Homo sapiens: one gene and its partner. The protein of the gene in region 2 interacts with the protein of the main gene of each other region in a pairwise test. Each region holds a gene or a part of one and is shown on either strand. Other genes may lie near its edges.

The links. The genes of interacting proteins can lie anywhere in the genome.
Region 1: the proteins of METTL13 (region 2) and SNRPA interact in binary tests that used the Homo sapiens proteins (3 or more experiments, as listed by UniProt).

The regions. Positions count from the first base shown.
Region 1 is NC_000019.10:40,753,717-40,761,588, reverse strand, and holds part of SNRPA (U1 small nuclear ribonucleoprotein A), read right to left. Parts: intron 4,258-7,872; coding exon 4,085-4,257; intron 2,159-4,084; coding exon 1,979-2,158; intron 1-1,978. UniProt on the Homo sapiens protein: Component of the spliceosomal U1 snRNP, which is essential for recognition of the pre-mRNA 5' splice-site and the subsequent assembly of the spliceosome. U1 snRNP is the first snRNP to interact with pre-mRNA.
Region 2 is NC_000001.11:171,777,110-171,785,363, forward strand, and holds the start of METTL13 (eEF1A lysine and N-terminal methyltransferase), read left to right. Parts: upstream 1-4,550; 5' UTR 4,551-4,858; coding exon 4,859-5,011; intron 5,012-6,630; coding exon 6,631-7,390; intron 7,391-8,254. UniProt on the Homo sapiens protein: Dual methyltransferase that catalyzes methylation of elongation factor 1-alpha (EEF1A1 and EEF1A2) at two different positions, and is therefore involved in the regulation of mRNA translation.

The sequences.
Region 1 (7,872 bases), on a different chromosome or scaffold from region 2:
AGGCAGGGGCAGGAGACTCGCTTGAACCCAGGAAGCGCAGGTTGCAGAGAGCTGAGATCACACCACTGCACTCCAGCCTGGACTACAGAGCGAGGCTCTGTCTCAAAAAAAAAAAAAAAAAAAAAAAAAAGAAAAAGAAAAAGAAAAGAAAAGAGAAAAGAAACTATATTTTGTGAGTTGTCACATTTGGATCTGCAATTCACTTCAAGTTATATTTTGCATATAGTATGAGGTAGGGCTAATTTTTTCCCCTTGCAGATACCCAACTGCCCCGCATCATGAACTAGGGGAAAAAAAGTCCTTTCCTCAGTGAAGTGCAGTGGTACCTCGATCACACATCAAGTAATTATACAAGTGTAGCTGTACCTAGACTCTTCATCCTGTCCCCTTGGTCTGTCTTCCTACCCTTCTGCCAACTGTATATCATCCTGGTTGGTTGCTGCAGGTTTTTTTTTTTTTTTTGCACATGGACGTGGTGGCATGTGCCTGTGATCCAGCTACTTGGGAGGCTGAGGCAGAAGATCACTTGAACTTGAGAGGCAGAGGTTGCAGTGAGCCGAGATTGCACGACTGCATTCCAGCCTGGGGAGACAGATTGACTGAGACTCCCTCCCGAAAAAAAACAAAAGAAAACAAAACAAAACAAAAAAGAGACAAGGTCTCACTCTGTTACCCAGGCTGGAGTGCAGTGACAAAACCACTGTTCACTGCAGCCTTGACCTCCAGTTCTCAAGCGATCCTCCCAGCTCAGCCTCCTGAGCAGCTGGGACTACAGGAATGAGTCACCACGCCCAGTTTTCTATTTTATTTTTTGTAGAGATGAGGTCTTGCTATTTTATAGAGGCTGGTCTTGAACTCCTGACCTAAAGCAATCCTCCTATCTTGGCCTCCCAAAGTGCTGGGATTACAGGCATGAGCCATTGGGCCTGGCCTGGTTGCTGGAGCTTCCCCTGGTCATGCAGGTCCTGGTGCTTTATTCTCCTCGCCTGGCTTGGCCTTGTCTTTCCACACATTTAGAAAGAGCCAATCAGTGTCCAGTGTTTACCGAAATTCCTGGTGGGATTTTGATTGCAATCACGTTGAATCTTCAATTAATTTGGATGGAACTGACCTCTTGACAATACTGAGTCTTCCTATCCATTGCTGAGTCTCTGATTTCTCCCAGCTACATTCTGTGATTTCAGTGTAGTCGTTCTGCAAACCTTTTGTTGGATTTACCCCTCAGTGCTACTTTTCAATGTGAAGTCTACTGGTCTGTTACTGGCATATAAAAATAAAACTGGGGGCCAGCCATGGTGGCTCATGCATGTAATCCTAGCACTTTGGGAGGCTGAGACAGTGAGTTTGAGACTAGCCTGGGTGATATGGCTAAGCCCCGTCTCTACAAAAAATGCAAAAGTTAGCTGGGTGGAGTGGCACGGACTGACAGTTCCAGCTGCTAGGGAGGCTGAGGCGTATCACTTGAGCCTGGGAGGCGGAGGTTGTAGTGAGCTGTGATGGCGCCACTGCACTCCAACCTGGGTGACAGTGAGACCCTGTCTCAAAACATAATATGAATAAATAAATAAAACTAATTTTTTTCCATATTGCCTTTATATCCAGCGATCTTTCTAAATTTAAGTTCACTTATTAATCCTAACAGTTGCTTAGTAGACACTTGGATTTTCTACATGCACAATGAGTTACAAGACACAGGCGACAAAATCAAGGCCACGGAGAGAGCGAAACCAAGTCATAGCCATGAAGAAAGACCTTGAGAAACAGTCACAAGGAGGGAACAAGAGTTTCGAAAGGAGATAGCATCATCTAGGTGCTCAATACCCCCCAAAAGAGAGAGAGAAACACATCTCTATAAAGAAATGGAAAGGAGGGGTCTGAAGCCCCAAGGGGAGAACTCTCCCCACCCTGTCCCAAAGCCAGTCCATGTGGCTGAGGAAGGTCTGGCAGTGGGAGGGTTGGTCTCCGGGACCTGGCTTACCGGGACAGGCCCCTGGACAGCCCCCACCACGGGGGTGGCTCCCCCGCCTTGCACAGCCTTCTTGGTGGCCGGGGTCTCCTGGCTCTTGGGCTTCCTCTTCTCCCGCTTGCGGTCCCGCTCCACGAAGGTGCCTTTCATCTTGGCAATGATATCTGAGTCGGTCTTGGCATACTGGATACGCTACCAAACAGAGAGCAGAACGGGTTAAGAGCGTGGATTCAGAGCCCAATTGCCAAGATTCAAAATTGGACCTTTATCAGGGGCCAGGTGCTGCGGCTCATGCCTGTAATCCCAGCCCTTTGGGAGGCTAAAGCGAGCAGATCACTTGAGGCCAGGAGGTGGAGACCAGCTTGGCCAACATGGCAAAACCCCATTTCTTTGTTTCTTTTCTTTTTTTTTTTTTTTTGAGACATTGTCTTGCTCTGTCACCCAGGCTAGAGTGCAGTGATGAGATCTCAGCTGACTGCAACCTCTGCCTCCCGGGTTCAAGCAATTCTGCCTCAGCCTCCCTACTAGCTGGGATTACAGGCGCCCACCACCACGCCTGGCTAATTTTTGTGCTTTTAGTAGAGACAGGGTTTCACCATGTTGGCCAGGCTGGTCTCGAACTCCTGACCTCAGGTGATCCACCCACCTCGGCCTCCGAAAGTGCTGGGATTACAGGCATGAGCCACTGCGCCTGGCCAGGAAACCCCATTTCTACCAAAAATACAAAAATTAGCTGGGCATGGTGGTGCGCACCTGTAGTCCCAGCTACTCAAGAGGCTGAGGCAGAAGAATCGCTTGAACCCAGGAGGCGAAGGTTGCAGTCAGCTGAGATGGCACCACTGCACTCCAGCCCAGGCAACAGAGCAAAAAACAAAAAACAAAAAACAAACAAACAAAAAAAAATTCAGACCTTATCAGGAGCTTACTGAGAAACACAGAAATATCTTGGCCTTAACTTCCTTGTCTGAAAAATGGGGATTATGATACTTCCCACTTCAAAGGACTGTTGTGAGGACTAAATGAGTTAAAGTGCTTGGAACAGTACCTGACACACAGTAAGCAAGTGTTCAGTAGAAAGGCTGTTGGTATTTTTAAGGGAAGCTGGAACAGCAATAAACATCAGGCCAAAGGACCGAGGAGACAATGCTAGGAGAGGAGTGCAGTGCAGGGGGATTTCCTGTCACACAAGAATACTTCAGTCTTCCAGGTTCAATCTCACTCACTTAGCTGTTTAAGGAGAACCTGCCAGATGCCAGGCGCCATTCAAGGCTCTGGGAATAAAGCAATGAACAAAATAGACAAAAACCCCTCTTTCATGGTGCTTATTCAGTAGGGGAAGGTATGTTAAAGATTCTTAGTGTGGCACAGTAGCTCACGCCTGTAATCCTAGCACTTTGGGAGGCTGAGGCAGGCAGATCACTTGAGCTCAGGAGTTTGAGACCAGCCTGGGCAACATGGCGAAACCCCGTCTCTACTAAAAATAAAAAAATCAGCCAGGTATGGTGGCACGTGCCTGTAATCCCAGCTACTCAGGAGGCTGAGGCAGGAGAATCACTTGAACCCGGGAGGTGGAGGTTGCAGTGAGCCAAGATTGCACCACTGCACTCCAGCCTGGGCAACAGAGGAAGATTCTGTCTCAAAATAATTTATTTATTTATTTATTTATTTATTTATTTTTTCTGAGACAGAGTCTCACTCTGTTGCCTAGGCTGGAGTGCAGTGGCAGGATCTCGGCTCACTGCAATCTCTGCCTCCCGGGTTCAAGCAATTCTCCTTCCTCAGCCACAGGAGTAGCTGGGACTACAGGTGCATGCTGCCACACCGAGCTAATTTTTGTATTTTAGTAGAGACAGGGTTTCACGGTGTTGCCCAGGCTGGCTGCAAACTCCTGAGCTCAGGTAATCCACCTGCCTCGGCCTCCCAAAGTGCCAGGATTACAGACGTGAGCCACCGCCCTCGGCCAAAGAAAAGATTTTTAAATGAGGCAAGGTGCAGTGGGAGCCTGGTCCAGCCTCACCTTGGCAAATGAACCGTAATATCCCCTCCTCTAATCCAGGCCCGCCCAGTCTCCTATAACATTTTACACACCCACACAGCCTCCGTACCCGCAATGCTCACCATAGGTTTGTCATAGAAAGGGAAACCCTGCATGGAGCGCAGGGCGTTGGTGGCGCTGCTGACCTCCTTGAAGATGACAAAGGCCTGGCCCCTCATCTTCAGGCTCCGTGATACCAGGATATCCAGGATCTGGCCAAACTGGGAGAAGATGGCGTACAGGGACTTTTTTAGCTCTGCAGTGGGGGAAAAAAAGACCTTTGAGCTCCCCTTTTTAGAAGAAGCGCAGCCCAAATAGAAGACCATCAGCCAATTGATGGGGTACCCAGAATGCCTCGGGTCCATAATCTCTCAAGACCTAACAATCACAGAAGCAGCCAGGAACCACTCAAGTGGCCAAGTACACTCTTCTACTCTTCTGTAAGATGTGCTTACAGAGAGCTGCTATATAATGAACATGTGCACATACATGCAAAGTGCTCAGGACAGCATCCGGCACGTAGTAAACACTCGATAAATGAGTGATTCTTTTCACTGCCACCAGCACCCTGACATGGGCCTGCATGACGTGGCCCTGGCAGATTTCCCCCACCTCATCCCTGCCCACATTCCACCGCCCTCCTGAGTTCCCAACCACACTGGCCCCCAGGTCTGACACACCAATTTTGCCCCAGGGCCTTTGAACTGGCTGCTCTCTTTACCTGGAACATCCCTCCCCTGAGGTTTACATGGTGGCCTCCTTCTAGTCACCCAGTCTCAGAGGAAATGTTGCCACCTCTGACCACGACGTCTAAATTTCTTCCCATGTCATTCTTACTCTACTTCCTTTTCTTTCATGACTATTTCCCACCTCCTGTCATGGTACGTTAACTTGTCTATCTTGCCTGAGGAGCTATAAGCCTGTCCCATTTGTTTACTGCAGTATGCCAAGCCTAGCACAGACTCCACCACAATTTTTTTTTTTTTTTTTTGGTGACAAGGTCTCACTTTGTCACCCAGGCTGGAGTGCAGTGGCATGATCATGGCTCACCGTAGCCTCAACCTCCCGGACTCAAGCGGTCCTCCCACTTCAGCCTATGGAGTAGCTGGGACCACAGGTGTATGCCACCATGCCCAGCTAATTTCTGGATTTTGTGCAGAGACAGGGTCTTGCTATGTTGCCCAGGCTGGTCTTGAACTCCTGAGCTTCAGCAATTAGCCCACCTTGGCCTCCGAAAGTGCTGGGATTACAGGAGTGTGCCACCACACCTGGCTGCAAACATTTGACTAGATACCATCAAGTGCCTTTTTTTTTTTTTAAAGACAGAATCTCCTTCTACTGCTCAGGGTGGAGTTCAGTGGCATGATGGTAGCTTACTACAGGCCTGACCTCCCAGGCTCAAGCAATCTTCCCACCACAGCCTCCCAAGGAGCTGGGACCATAGGCACGCAGCACGACGCACGGCTAATTTTTTATTTTTTGTAGACACAGTCTCCTATGTTGGCCAGGTTGGTCTTGAACTCCTGGGCTCCAGTGATCCTCCTGCCTTGGCTTCCCCAAAGTGCTGGGATTACAGGCATGAGTCATCGCACCCCCATCAAATGCTTTATGGAGGTAACTTCACTTCCTCACAACAAACCCATTAGGTGGCAACTATGACTGTCCCAATTTTACTGGAAACAGGTTCTCAGAGGATTCCTCACTGGCCCAGGGCATCAATCTGGAGGGCATAAGGAAGCGTATGGCAGAGCCCAGTCCACGTATTCCATCTGAACCCGGTACCACCACATCTCACCAGCAAAGGGCATCACTTGACAGCAAGTGAGATTCAAGCTCAACAAGGATGGACTCCCTCTCACCACCCAGGTCTGCAAAGGGCACCAATGTCTTATGCAAAGAAGATGGCTGAGATGGCCAAGCATGGTGGCTCACACCTGTAATCCCAGCACTCTGGGAGGCCGAGGTGGGCAGATCCTTTGCACTCAAGAGTTCAAGACCAGTCTGGGCAATAGGGTGAAACCCTGTCTCTACAAAAGATACAAAAATTAGCCAGGCATAGTGGTGCATGCCTTGTGGTCATAGCTACTTGGGAGGCTGAAGTGGGAGGATCACTCTAGCCTGGGAGGCAGAGGTTGCAGTGAGCCATGACCTCACCACTGGACTCCAACCTTCATAAAAACTGGCCAGGCATGGTGGCTCATGCCTATAATTCCAGCACTTTGGGAGGCTGAGGCAGATCACGTGAGGTCAGGAGTTCAAGACCAGCCTGGCCAAGACGGTGAAACCCCGTCTTGACTAAAAATGCCAAAAAAAAAAAAAAAAAAAAAAAAGAAAAGAAAAAAAATTAGCTAGGCGTGGTGGAGGGCGCTTGTAATCCCAGCTACTGGGGAGGCTGAGGCATGAGAATAGCTTGAACCAGAGAGGCAAAAGTTACAGTGAGCAGAGATTGCGCCACTGCACTCCAGCCTGGGTGACAAATCGAAACTCCATCTCAAAAAAAAAAGCTAAGCTGAAGCAGAAGCCACTTGTAAAATAGATACCAGGCTAGGAAAGAAGCAAGAAAATGTGTAGGCTGGGTGGGGGCAGGGACAGCAGTCAAGGTTGTTTTTAAGCAATTAGTCAAAAATTCTCCTGGTGGTGACATTTCTGGTTTTCCTCTCCGTACTCCATCCCCATGAATCTTGCTCAGACTTCACTCATTCCACGGGACTCTGGGCCTCTCTCTACTCTCCAGCCTCCCCTCGCCCATTCGCATTTACCCTCCACAGCTGGGAGGATATTCCACCAGGGAGGCAGCCAGGACAGGGAAGCAGTCTGGCTCCCCAACACCCTCAGGGCAAAGTCCAACACCTCACAGCCATGAGCCACCAGTGCACAGCTCACTGGAAGTTTCCCCATGATTTACAAGCCTCAAAACTACTTGTAATACTCAGAATACGCCAGGCTCTTTTGACCCTAAACATCTGAACAAGCTGGACCAAGTTAAGAATGCTCTTCTCCCTCAGTGTAACATAAATACTGCTTACTGTACCTGGCAGGCTCTCCAAAATGTCTCCTTTTCCTGGAAGCTGAATGGATCTCTCTGTCTTTCTAAGTTCCCAATCCCAGCCCTCAACACTCTGCCTAAGCTTCCTGCCTGATGGCCCTGACTACTCTGGGCTGTCACTGTCCTAAAGAACCAGGGTTCTGGCCGGGTGCGGTGGTTCACACCTGTAATCCCAGCACTTTGGGAGGCCGAGGCGGGTGGATCACAGTTCAGGAGTTCGAGACCAGCATAGCCAAGATGGTGAAACCCCGTCTCTACTAAAAATACAAAAATTAGCCAAGCGTGGTAGCAGGTGCTTGGAATCCCAGCTACTCAGGAGGCTGAGGCAGAGAATCACTTGAATTCGGGAGGCGGAGGTTGCAGTGAGCTGAGATCGCACCACTGCATTCCAGCCTGGGCAACAGAGCGACACTCCGTCTCATCTCAAAAAAAAAAAAAAAACGCCGGGCGCTGGGGCTGACGCCTGTAATCCCAGCACTTTTGGAGGCCAAGGTGGGCAGATCACGAGGTCAGGAAATCAACACCATCCTGGCTAACATGGTTAAACCCCTTCTCTACTAAATATACAAAAAATTAGCCGGGTGTGCTGGTGGGCGCCTGTAGTCCCAGCTACTCGGGAGGCTGAGGCAGGAGAATGGCGTGAACCCAGGAGGCAAGGCAGAGCTTGCAGTGAGCAGAGATGGTGCCACTGCACTCCAGCCTGGGCGACAGAGGAAGACTCCGTCTCAAAAATAAATAAATAAATAAAATAAGATTTAAAAACAAAAAACCAGGGTTCTATGTCACCAATGTGTCCCCAGCACTGCCCGATAATGGTTGGGCACC
Region 2 (8,254 bases):
ATTATCCCAAGATACAGGAGAACATTCATTTTTAAACTTCTCAAATGTGGAAAACAAACCCATTTGCTAAGATGATTTCCAATTTGAAATAGTTTCCAGCATTATATGAGCCACTCCCTGTACACCAAAGAGACATTCCCTTTACTTAATTTTATATCCCACTCGTGAAACATTTTCATGTGTTGGACCTACCAACTCCAACTGGATACCACTGACAGGAAGTGAGAAGGGTATGAGCCCTGGGGTAGGCATGCAGGGTGGGGAGACTGGCTTTTAGCTCTGGCTCTGGTTTTTACTGGAGTGATAACCTCTAAATTCTTTTCTAGCAACAGTTCTACAAATAATACCCCTTTCTCCTTCCCCGTTTCTTTCTACAGACTATTTCTTCAGTCATCCAGAGGCCGATGTAGGAGTCATTTATGAGTCCCTCAGTCTTTTATTCCCCCTATTCAATCAGTCATCAAGTGCCTCAGTCTTTCCTGAGAACATCTCTCAGATCAGGTCTTTCTGTCATGACTCTGCTTCTCTGTTGACTTCCTGTGGCCTGACAGGCTGAAGCTAAATATGTGGAATAGAAGACTCCTCAAAACCTGCCCTTTACCTCAGCCTCTAGTTGTATCTTCTGCTGCTTTCTCCCCACTGTGACCTTCTGCCCCAACCACACATACTCTCTCTCTCTCTTTCTCTCTTCTGTTTATGTTCCGTATTAGTTTCCTATCACTACTGTAACAAATTACCAAAAACTAGTACTATATGCAATACAAATTTATTATCTTACAGTTGGATCAGTCAGAAGTCTGACAAGTCTCAATAAATTAAAATCAAGGTGTCAATAGGGCCGTATTTCTTCTGGAGGCTCTACAGGAGAATTCATTTCTTTTCCTTTTCCAGGTTCTAGAGGTCACCGCCTTTCCTTGGTTCATGGCTGCTTTCCTTCATCTTCAAAGCCAGAAACATTGGGCCAAGCCCTTCTGTCTCTCCCTCTTCTACTTTAAAAGACCCTTGTGGCCCAGCCTGGCCAACATGGTGAGACTACTAAAAATACAAAAATCAGCTGGGTGTGTGCACGCCTGTAATCCGTAGCTACTCAAGAGGCTGAGGCAGGAGAATTGCTTGAACCTGGGAGGCGGAGGTTGCAGTGAGCCAAGATCGTGCCACTGCACTCCAGACTGGGCAACAGAGTAAGACTCCGTCTCAAAAAAAAAAAAAAAAAAAAAGAAAGAAAATGAAAAAGGACCCTGTGATTACATTGAGCTCAGTTAGATAATCTTGCTATGTCAGCTGATTAGCATCCTTAATTGCATCTACAACCTTAATTCTTCTTTGCCTTGTAACCTGTTACCTTCACAGTTTCGGTTCAGGGGATTAGGAGGTAGACATCTTTAGGGGAGCATTATTTTGCCTCTCTCATCCTCTGCCTCCCAAATTGTCAGAGATGCTTTTTATTCCCTCTTTATTATTTTACAATTAATCGTAGTAACAATCAATTGAATATTACCACAATTATGAGAATGTTTCAATTAAGTAAGTTTGACTGTAAATTATATATCCAGAGGTCTGGATTTATATTTTTAGGAAAAAACTCCACAATACTGAATGGCTTTATCTAAATTTAGCTTGCATTTTAAATCATATTTTTAACCACTCTGGGGATCCTAATAAAACACAAAGCATTTTAACATCTTATTGGTTTAAATTAACTAAGTATACTAATGATAACACATACCTATCAATTATATTTCATAGTTAAATCTTGAGAGAAATAAGCTTCAAATAAGTATTTTGAAAGGTTAATGCTAGGGTCTAATGTTACAATATATCTAAAATATTTCTGTGTTAATCTTACAATTTTAGAAAATCTCTAGTATGTTTAAGCTTAAAATGTTCTGGTTGTTATCACTTTTTTAGGCTCACAGAAGGGAGGCAGGCACAGATGGAAAAACGTAAGTTACTTACCCTTTTGGTCTGAAAAACACTGCAAACAGTAATCATACTTTTAGAGCATCAAATACGGGGCTGGAGCCTGGGCTGTGATAGAAATAACTTCGTCTTTTCTAATAACATGACCTTAACAGAACAGACAATGGAGACAGAGGGAAAAGCAGCAGCCAGAAATTCTTGTAAAGGTTCCAGAAGGTGAACCATGCTTTTTGGTTTTTCACCTATGTCATGCTGATATTAAGCAGTCAGATTATATAGTATTTTTGTCCCTTCCTCAGGGAAGCCTTCTCTGGTTACCCCTTAGATCAGTAGAGGTCACAAAGATATACTATCATGGAATGGTATGGTTCTCCTTCACAGCACTTATAACTCCCATTACAGACTATTTTTGTAATTGTTTAATGTGCCCTCCACGTGATTACCATGCTTACCACTGCATCCTTAGCTTCTACCACAGTGATTGGCCCCTATTAGACAATTAAAATATTTGTTGAACTGAATTGAATAAAGCTTTGGGGGGCACAGAGCAGCTGCTATGGTTTTTGTTTGTTTTTGTTGTTGTCGTTTTTGAGAGGGAGTCTCCTTCTGTTGGCCAGGATGGAGTGCGGTGGCGCAATCTCTTGGCTCACTGCAACCTCCGCCTCCCGGGTTCAAGCGATTCTCCTGCCTCAGCCTCCTGAGTAGCTGGGACCACAGGCACACACAACCACGCTCGGCTAATTTTTGTATTTTTATTAGAGACATGGTTTCACCATGTTGGCCAGGCTGATCTCAAACTCCTGATCTCAAGTGATCCGCCCGCCTCGGCCTACCAAAGTGGTAGGATTACAGGCGTGAGCCACCGCGCCTGGCTGCTATGCTGTTTTGCTTCTTTGGTATCGTGTAGCACATTCAGTACAAGTGATGTCCTCCGCTCTCAATAAGTGCTTCCTAAAGAACTCACATTTCACCCATTCAGAACCTTGCATGGTGTAGTAGCTGAAGTTACTACTTCAAGGACTCCTTCTCTTTATCTTGGGTAGAGAGGAACAATGTGAACTCAGCAAAGGGATCATGAAAACAGATTTTCTCTTATGTTACTTGTAGAAAGCTTTTAGATTTATCATTGAAAATTGCGAATTTTGAACCATATCCATTTTGACTTAATTGTATTTTAAAACAGTGGTTCTCAAAAAAGTGTGGTTCCGGGACCAACATCATCAGCATCGTGGGAACTTGTTAGAAACACAAATCCTTGGGCCTCACCACTGAACTAATGACTTAGAACAGGGGTTGGACTGGGGAATTCTGTGTTTTAACAAGTCCTCCAGGTGATTCTGACGCATGCCAGTTTGAGAATCACTTTTTTAAACCAATGTTTAAGTCCAATCTAACCTACTTAACTATTAACAGTCTACCTGGCTATCTACCTGTGGTAGTGTAGTATGTAACAGCCCACAGCACACATGCTCAATTCCAAGCCTATCTGCTCTCCGCAATCAGTATATTCCTCCTGCAATTTATCATGGTATGAAAGGCCCAGTGATACACATATTTGGTCATTTTCAAATAGTGCCTGCCAGCATAGTGGCTCACACCAGTCATCCCAGCACTTTGGTAGGGTGAGGCGAGATGATCATTTGAGCTCAGGAGTTTGAGAACAGCCCGGACAACATGGCGAAACCCCATTTCTACAAAAAAAAAAAAAAAATTAGCCAGCGGTAGTGGCGTGCTACTTGGGAGGCTGAGGTGGGAGGATCCCCTGACCCCTGGAAAGTGGAGACTGCAGTGAGCCATGACTGCACCACTGCACTCCAGTCTGGGCGACAGAGACAGACCCTGTCTGAAAAAAAAGTGCCCTTCACAGAAGCTTCCTCAGGGTATTAGCATGAGCATGTGAAAGTACAGTATGTTTATCAAACACATAAAATAAGCAGTTATAAATAACGTCAGAATAACACAAGGAGGCCAATTATCAAAATGAAAGGCTAGTTTTGCATGCTGTGCTTTGCGGAGAGAAGGAAGAGGGAGTTTTCATGTTATTACACTTTTGATAGCAGAATCCTATATTTTGGTGCAGAGGTGGCAAAATAAGGCGGGGGGTGCTGGTGCGCAGAAGCTGACAAGGTTAGAATGTGCAGCGTTTTTACGACGGACTGGCTTTACTCATTTCCTGCCTCACTTCTCTCCTATCTGTATAGGTTTTTCTTTTCGTCCTCCTCTACCAGTACGCTCCCGCCTGCCGCGCTCCGCCCTTGTGCGGCGCACGATCGGAGTCAGTGATTAAGCCGGCTCCAAGACAAAGCGGAGGCCGAGCCCAGGAAGCAAGCGCGCTCTCCGCCCCGCCTGGAGGGAGGGCCCAACCACAGCACAGCCGCGCTCACTCCTCACCCGGACGTGACCTAGTTCTCACAGAGGCCCGGCCTCTTCCGCCACAACTCCGGCCCGCGGTCCCGCCCCGTTCCGTGAATGGTCGGCCGGCCTCAGGTCAAAAAAGCGTTTAGGTGTCTGCGACGGAGCCTCCGGAGAAAGGCAAGCACGTCGCAGCCAATGAGGTGATAGAAACGCAAAGCAGCGACCAATGACTAGCTGAGTTGGGCTGGGCCGGCCGACGAATCACGAGGCTTCGCACCCGGATATGGTTATGGGCTCGGAAATCTAGTTCGGGAAAAGTGTGAGGGGCTCTTCACGTGGGGAAGGAACAGCAGGCGCGGAGGAGGGGGCAAGCGTGTGTGAGATTCAGTGGTCCATGCGTGCGTTTGTCGTGTAAGGGTCATTCCTGGGGTTTGGAGTGGGGGAACAAATCAATGTGGCTGTTTTTCCGTGGAAAGAATTCCCACTGCAGTGTCCCGGAGCCTGCGTGTGGTGGGCAAGCTCCTCAAATGGTATCTCACAGGGAATAGGGGAGTCTTGAAAACGCAGCTTCGGCAGTAGGAACATGAACCTCTTACCTAAAAGTTCCAGGGAGTTTGGCTCCGTTGACTATTGGGAGAAGTTCTTCCAGCAGCGAGGAAAGAAAGCTTTCGAGTGGTATGGAACCTACCTGGAACTGTGCGGGGTGCTACATAAATATATCAAGCCCAGGGAAAAGGTGAGGAGCGCGGGTTGGTAGCCCTTCGTACGTGCTCCGGAAGGTGGGAACTGGTAACAGGAATCTTGCACTTGGTGGACAGTGACAGGCGGGAGGACCCTAGTTGGACGCATATTTCAGCATTTCCTGCATTGTTCCTGCTAAAAGACAAACTAGAATATTCTTTCAGGCCGGGCGCAGTGGCTCACACCTGTAATCCGAACACTTTGGGAGACCGAGGTGGGAGGATCGCTTGAGCCCTGGAGTTAAAGACCAGCCTGGGGAACATGAGACCTCGTCTCTACAAAAAATGAAAAAATTAGCCGGGCGTGGTGGCGCGCATCTGTATTTCCAGCTACTCGGGAGGCTTAGGCGGGAGGATCGCTTGAGCCCAGGAGGTCGAGGCTGCAGTGAGCCATGATCACGCCACTGCACTCCAGCCTGGGTGACAGAGTGAGACCCTGTCTAAAAAAAAAAACATTTCTTTAAAGGTTTTCAGATAATAGACCTCCCACCCCAGCTCATTCTTGGATTAATAACCCTACTTGAAGAGTGACTTCCCATCTTGAAAGTATGTTCTTCTGTCACTGTGCATTCCTGTGCAACCTGCAGCAGGTGTGACTTTGTGTATGAATTTGTTTTTCAAATAGTCGTTGAGTGCGCCCCAAGTTTCAGGCACTGCTCAGTCCTTAAACTATAAGAGCATTAAGACGTAAACCCTGCACATGTTCCAGAAGTGAAACGTGATAAGTACAACAATGGGTTTGGTATAGGTGAGATTGTACTGGAGGTAGGGAAGGAGGAAGGTAGAAAACTTAACATTTGTGGGGAAGCTTTATGTGCCAAGCCTTATGTTGGGTGCTGTGTATGTGCATGTGCAATCTTTGAATTCTCATCATAAATTCAGGTGAGTGGCCATGCATACATTTTACAGATGAGGAAACTGAGGCCCCGAGAGCCACTTTTTTTTTTTTTTTTGCCCAAGATCATGTCCAGGTGGTCATGTGGGGATTTAAACTCAGGCCTGTCTGGCTCCAGAGCATATGCACATCTCTTTGTACCATGCTTTTCCAAAGATGGCAATATCAGAATTTCTAAGTTTGAATGGGAGATTGCTCCCTGGAGAGGGAGACAACAATCTGAATTTTAAGTTCGGCTTCAGAAGATAGCCAAATATCATGAGATGGAATCCGTGATGGAAGTAAGATTTGAATCCTCACAAAGTGTACTTTATTGTCTAAAGGAGCCAAAGGCATGAGTAGAGTGAGGAAATAGGGTTATTCCTGGCCTAGGATTTCAACTGTAACTCTATATTTGGATTCTCTGACTTCCTATTAATTCCTGAGTAATAAGTGCATGATTTAGAGAAAAGAACAGTTATGATTAATTTGTTTCTGCAACACAAAGCCCATTCTCATATAACCTGTATTGTAGCTGAATGTGGTTTTCACTAGCAAGTATATGTGGTGTTTCAAGATAGAGTCTAGCATCAACTCTACAATGTCGCTCTTTCTCTGGCAGTAGCGTCTCCACCTTCTGAAAATGTGACTCAGCCAAGGTGAGACTTGATTCCTTGAAGTACCTGAAGTACAGTCCTTTGCTTTGATTACCTCCCTCTTGTCTGTGAATTTTTTCTCCAGGTGCTGGTGATTGGGTGTGGCAACTCAGAACTGAGTGAGCAACTGTATGATGTGGGCTATCGGGATATAGTGAACATCGACATCAGTGAGGTTGTCATCAAGCAAATGAAGGAATGTAATGCCACCCGACGGCCCCAGATGAGCTTCTTGAAGATGGACATGACGCAGATGGAGTTTCCTGATGCCTCGTTCCAGGTGGTGTTGGACAAGGGCACCCTGGATGCTGTCCTGACAGATGAGGAAGAGAAGACCTTACAACAGGTGGACAGGATGCTGGCTGAGGTTGGCCGTGTCCTGCAGGTGGGCGGTCGCTATCTCTGCATCTCCCTGGCTCAGGCTCACATCCTGAAGAAAGCAGTGGGCCACTTCTCCCGGGAGGGGTGGATGGTGAGGGTGCACCAAGTGGCCAACAGCCAGGACCAGGTGTTGGAAGCAGAGCCTCAGTTCTCCTTGCCTGTCTTTGCCTTCATCATGACCAAGTTCAGGCCAGTCCCTGGCTCTGCCCTTCAGATCTTTGAGCTGTGTGCTCAGGAGCAGCGCAAGCCTGTGCGGCTGGAGAGTGCCGAGCGGCTGGCCGAGGCGGTGCAGGAGCGACAGCAGTATGCCTGGCTGTGCAGCCAGCTGCGCCGCAAGGCCAGGCTGGGGAGTGTGTCTCTGGACTTGTGCGATGGGGACACGGGGGAGCCACGCTACACCCTCCACGTGGTGGACAGCCCCACTGTGAAACCATCGCGGGACAATCATTTTGCGATTTTCATCAGTGAGTTGGGATTGCTCCCTCTCTTCCCTGGAGGGGCTGGCTTACAGGGGCTGGGGCTTGGGCTGGGGCTGGGGCTGAGGCTGGGCTGGGGCTTTGGTGGGATTCTGGACTGTTTTTTGTCTTGCAGGGGTTTGTACTTCCAGAGGATTAGACTACCCAAGGCATGATGAAAGGAGAGTAATAGCTCTCTAGCAACCTACTTGGAGTTGAGACCTATTCCTTTTCATCTGCCATTGCAAAGGCTTGATGAAGTGTGAGAATGGGGTTGGTAGGGAAGAGAGAGAATAGAGATAAATTTAGGAGGTCACATATGATATAGAGATGCTAGTTACTTTGTAGCATGGAGTAATGGAAGTAATGCTGGACTAGCAAGTCTAAGACATAGGTTCTAGTCCCAGCTGTAGCCTGTGAGCTGCAGGACCTGGGGAAGTTGCTGTGCTTCTCTGCAAAATTTGGAGAGGCAGCATAGGGTAGCAGCTAAAAAAGTGAGCTCTGGAACCAGACTGTTTGGGTTTCAGTTTTGGCTCAGTCATTTCCTGATGGTGTGACATTAGACAGGTTACTTTTCTTTCTCTGCCTTGATGGGATTGTAACTCTGGTGTAGTTGTGAGAAGTATAAAAGCTCTTAGAAATGGTACCTGGCCTTGGAAGTGCTGTGTAAATGTTAGCCATTATTACTGAAAGCAGTAAGTTATATCAGATTTATCTTAATAAGGATAAAAAAGATAGTAGGAGGAAGTGCTTTCAAAAGTGGAACATTGTAGACAAATGCAAAGTGTTTATGGTCTTGGTGTTACGGTAATTTGTTTCCTGGTGACTGAGCTAGTTTTTCAAGTATTCTATAATTCTGTCTGTCCATGTGTG